2 separate regions of the Homo sapiens genome follow, and region 2 is linked to region 1. Evidence: fine-mapped expression QTL. Tissue or cell type: whole blood. Region 1 holds a variant in brackets; the other region holds the start of a gene. All regions are shown on one strand. Distances are from middle to middle.

The links. PIP is the estimated chance that this variant, and not a neighbour inherited with it, causes the effect.
Region 2: it holds the start of VPS16, and the variant in region 1 is fine-mapped to the expression of VPS16 in whole blood (INTERVAL, PIP above 0.99). The same link has a PIP of 0.9 or more in unexposed skin.

The regions. Positions count from the first base shown.
Region 1 is chr20:2,997,027-2,999,783 of GRCh38, reverse strand. All of the region lies in intron 9 of PTPRA (protein tyrosine phosphatase receptor type A), which reads right to left. Among named protein-coding and RNA genes, the nearest start is that of GNRH2, 45 kb to the left of the region's middle. The variant C/G (reference allele first, on the strand shown) is at 1,289.
Region 2 is chr20:2,839,572-2,842,071 of GRCh38, reverse strand. VPS16 (VPS16 core subunit of CORVET and HOPS complexes) reads right to left here and starts at 1,327. Exons shown (of 24, transcript NM_022575.4): 1 at 1,245-1,327. The coding sequence starts at 1,297. It overlaps PCED1A (PC-esterase domain containing 1A), which reads left to right and starts at 1,417. Exons shown (of 8, transcript NM_022760.6): 1 at 1,417-1,861; 2 at 2,139-2,283. The coding sequence starts at 2,160. RefSeq lists enhancers at 519-1,050, 1,584-2,115.

The sequences.
Region 1 (2,757 bases):
GAAGTATATTTTACTACATTATGATCTCTACATTTTATCATTTTTGTCCTTTAAATTTCAGTGTTTACAGCAACTGGAATTGGTTTTTGTGTTTGATATGTGACAAGCATTCAATTTCATTTATTCCCACAGGGTTACCAATGGTCCCAGGCACTATTTATTGTGAAGACCATCTTTTCCCCACCCAAACTGCAAGAGCATTTCTGTCATAAATAGGTTTCCACTTACAAATGGATCTGCTTCTGGGCTCTTTATTTCATTCCACTGGTCGATCTGTCTATCCCAGTGCCAATACAAAACTGTCTTAATTACTAAAATTTTATAATCTCTTTATATCTGGTAAGGCAGGTCTCCTCACCTTGTTCTTCTTCTTCAGGAATGTCTTGGCTATTCTTGAATCTTTTCTCCTCCATATAAATTTTAGAATCAGCTTGTCAAGTTCCACAAAAAAACCTGTTGGGATTTTTATTGGAATTGCATTGAATCTATATATCTTGGGGGAGAATTGACATCTTTACAAAATTGAGCCTCCTAATCCATTGATCCTATCTCTTCACTAATTTAAGCTATTTTCCTTTAATGTCTTCAAACATTTTAATAATTTTCTCTAAATTGTTAAATCCATTCCTAGGTACTTTACATTTGGATGCTATTGTAATTGGCACCTTTTAAAAGGTATTATTAGGTTTTCTGTTTGTGGCCTATGTATAGAAATGCATTAAATTTTTATGCTGCTTCTGTATCTAGCAACCTTGCTAATTCCATAATATGTCTGATGAATATTAATTCTATAATATGTCATATTAATTCTATAATGTCATATTTATTAATTATAAATATGTCATATATAATAAATTATAAATATGTCATATTTATTAATTCTATAATATAATATGTCATATTAATTCTATAATATGTCTGATGAATCTGTGGGTTTTTCTGAAGACAGTATTTGGTCTGTGAAAAATTTATATTTTGTCCCTTCCTTTGCAATCCTTATACCTTTCTTTTCTTGCCTAGATCTCCAGTACAGGTCTGAATCTCATTCACTTTTAAGTCTGAATCTCCTTTCAATACTCTCACCCAATAGTCACCAGTGACTGAACACTAGAGTGATGGGAAATTTACTACCTTCCAAGGTAGGTCTTGGAACAGTTCTGTTTAAAACGACCCAACACCCAGACACACAATTTCTTTTGCATTTCCCTCGTACTAAGCAATGTAAAACCCAGATGTCAGCGGGCATCTTTTCTGCCCCTTGCAAAACGCAAACTCCCAACTCTCTGGA[C/G]AGTGGAATTCCAAAGCCCTTGTCACAGTTCCTGCTAATTCCCACAGGACTGTGACTCTGATTCACTTATTTTGGGACAACTCATCAATGTAGAGGCGATTTCACCCATCTCAACTCAGATGCCACACTCAGTCCCATCACTAGTGACACACACATGCCTTCTTCACCTGGCAATCTAAGAGATGTGAGGTCCTGAGGAAGGTCACATCTCACATCGCACAGATTCTGACTATTTCACTGGCTTCACCTCTTTCCCTCTTTTCTTTCTCTCCTATCCCATTCCTCTCAGGAGCTAAGCCTTTTTTTTTTTTTTTTTTTGAGACAGAGTCTCACTCTGGTAGCCAGGAGGCTGGAGGGCAGTGCGGTGATCACTGTAGCTCACTGTAGCTCCTGCAGCTCTATAAAGTTAGCACTATAGCTCACACTGTAGCCTCCAAGTGTTGGGCTCAAATGATTCTCCCACCTCAGCCCCCTGAGTAGCTAGAACTACAGGCATGTGCCATCACGCCTGGCTAATTAAAAAAAATTGTTTTGTAGAGATAAGGTCTTGCTACATTGCCTAGGCTGGTCTTAAACTCCTGGCCTCAATCTTCCCGCATTGGCTTCCCAAAGTGCTAGATTACAGGCATGAACAACTGCACCCAGCCAGAAGCTAACACAATTTTATCTTTTTGTTTCTTTTTAAACCTTGATAATGCCTTAAAGACCTCAATTTTCCCTGAAAATGGGGGCTTCTGAGTGGTTTTTCAAAGTATTTCTTTTGAATAAATTCAATGATTCCTAGAAAGACAAATGCTGGTGAACAAAAAAGCTCCAGCTTGTAATTAGGATGAAAGCCACAGCCTAGAACTTCTAATCAGGTGGGCATTCACGGAAATGCTACAGTCTCCTTTTAGCCTGTCACATATCTGAAAACAGCTGTCATGTCCTATGAGTGTTGTTCCTTTAGTTATTCACCCCCATGGTCCAGTTTCTCTCCAGAACAACATCCCATTTGGTGATATCCCTTTTTATAGAGACCTGACCACAAGACTCCTGACACAGTTCAAACTAGGCATAGGAACTTCTTTATTCTAGATGTTATATATCCATCGAAGCAAACTAAGTCCATTAGATTTATTTCCCATATTCAAAAAAATCTGCTTTAAAAATATTATAAAAAGAATATGCTTGTTTTAAGTCAAATAATTTAGTAGAAAACAAAGTTCCCTATTATGTCTCTCCTCTCTTCCAGCCCCCTTGTAGGCAGCCACTGTTGACAATTTGTAGTCTTTCAGACTTAAAAAAAAAAGCATTAACATACCCAAACACACACAGATATACATATTTTTGAAAACAAAAATGAAATTATCCCACATATGTTTTCTCACATAACAATATAACTTAGAGATCTATGTGAACACATTTATTTTAATGATAGTATAGAATATCATAATGGATATAAGAAATCATCTGGCCATTCTATTTGA
Region 2 (2,500 bases), 160 kb after region 1:
GCAAGAAACATGCTTTTGGCCGGGCTCAGTGGTTCACGCCTGTAATCCCAGTACTTTGGGAGGCCAAGGTGGATAGATTGCTTAAGGTCAGAAGTTCAAGACCAGCCTGGCCACCATGGTGAAACCTCACCTCTAGCAAAAAATACAAAAATTAGCCGGGCGTGGTGACAGGGGCCTGCAGTCTCAGCCACTCGGGAGGCTGAGGCAGGAGAATCCCTTGAACCCGGGAGGCGGAGGTTGCAGTGAGCCGAGTGCCCCTGCACTCCAGCCTGGGCAACAGAGGAAGACTCTGTCAAAAAAAAAAAAAATGCTTTCAGCCCTGAAGGAGCCTGGTTTAGCAGAAGAAACCTATACAAATGTCGCCTAAATATACAAATAGACCATACCTAAAAGACCCTAGCACTGGGCCCAGTGAGGCCCACAGGATTCTATTGGGGGAGAATCAGGCACAGTTCCAGAAAGAACCCTTGAACTACTAAGTCCTGAAGGATGCGCAAAATTCTTCAGTGAGATAAAGAGAGAAATGGCAGTATCCACAGAAACTGCAGACTGGTTAGGGCCTTGTAATTCTGCGCAGCTGGAACGCAAGATTTGGGTAGGAGAGCGGTAGATGAGGTTGGAGAGACAAACGGGCTGCCTTACAGATAGACGTTCCACGAGAAGTTCGTAGTTTTTCCTATTAGGGAAGCTATGGGAAAATCCTAATCTGGGTAACGATGTAACGGGTTTACACTTTAGAAAAATCCGTGGTTTAGGACTCTACAACTCCCATGGGCGGGCTGCCCTAACCCAGGGGTTCCCACTTCCGCTGTTCCGGGATTCACGGACGACTCGCCCCCTTTTCCCAGCCTTGGTCAGCACTGTTACCCCGCCCGCCGTGCGATCCCGCCCCCCTCGGAGCGCCCCTGTGGTCTGACTTCAGCAGCACTTTCCGGCAGGAGACTGGGCACTCGCTGTCACCCGCGAGCTGCCTCCCTCAGCGAGATCTGAGCATCTTTCCGGAGGCTAACAGACCTGGGCTTCGGGGTGACCACTGTGCTTGCCTCAGTTTCCTTTTCTGGAGCAGGGGAAGGCCCGGCTCCCTGCCCAAAGGCGGCTGTGCGCTAAGTGGCAGACGCTCGGGGAGAGCCGGCGCGGGGCGGACCCCAGCGCCAGTAGTGACAGGGGCGAACGCCGCCGGGAGACTCCAGCCGGCGGGCGAGCAGGGTAAGCCAGGCCGTGGGCGGGAGGGCGGGGCAGCTCACCGGTAAAAGGCAGAGTCCCCGAGTGGGTTCCAGTTCGCCGTGTAGCAGTCCATGGCTGGTGCAGACGGCAGCTGGGAAGCACCGAGGGGACACCCACCTAGAGCGGGCTCCAGGCCGGCACTTCCGCTTCCGCCCGTCCGGGTCACGTGGCGAGGCCGCCGCCGCGGCCATCACCACTGTGGGCAGCCTCACTTGGCTGCCGCCCCGAGACCCCAGCCCGTACCTGGGCTTCGCGCCCGCCAAGTGGGCCCAGCCCTGGCTCCTGCGCCCTGTGGCGGCCACCTCCATCGCCTTGCTTTCCCTTCGGGCACTGGGGGTCGCTCAGGGCGGGACATGGGTGAACGGAAGTGGAAGCTGTGAGCGTCGCAGCCCGAGGCGCCGAGGCCTGAGGCGCCGTCGGGGCCACAGCGACGCTCGCATGGAGAGCGCTGGGCGCTGGGCTGTGCACCGACGGCTAACCTGGACCCACGGTCTCTGCGGGGCGGGAGCTTTGCAGAACCGACTGGCCGACTGGGGCGCGGGAACATGAGGCTTGGCTAGGAGCCCGCTGCGGGCCAGGCGCGCGGTGCGCAGGCATACCCGGGTCGCGGGTGAACACCGCGGAGCCCCGGGACTTGGTAATTGGCGCGAGCGGGTGCGCGCATGCGCGGGACGGCGGCGGGCACGTGGCGAGGCGCAGGGCGGCGCCGCGCGGGAAGCTCCCCAGTGCCCTGGAGGCCTGCTGGCTGGACGACCCCCTGCCTCTGGTACCAAGTGTGACCAAGGCTGGCGCCACCATGGCTCTGCTGCCGTCACCTCCTCCCTTTAGCATTGAGCAGCCCCGGAGGGGCTAGCCCTGAGGCTGACCTGCCCAGAGTCCCCACCATCGCGCTGCTTAGTGGCCTCTCCCTGCAGCCTGTCGTTGCTGGTGGCGGCATGGTCTTCTGTCTGTCGAGCGAGGAGCCGCGCCGCCCGCTGCGAAGCGACATGGTCCACTTCCAGGCCTCGGAAGTCCAGCAGCTGCTACACAACAAGTTCGTGGTCATCTTGGGGGACTCCAGTGAGTGCCTCTTCTAGGGTGACGCTTCCAGTCCCACACCTTGCAGCCCGTTCAGTGTGTCTGGACCATTTGTTTCCATCTCACATCTCTTGTCTGTCTTCTGGTCTGTTCCGTCCAGTAGGTTTTCTCTTTTTATGTCCCACACATCTTCCACAGGAGTCCTGACAGGTGTAATAACCTGTGCACTTTTTAGCCCATCCTTGCTCAGCATTTCTCG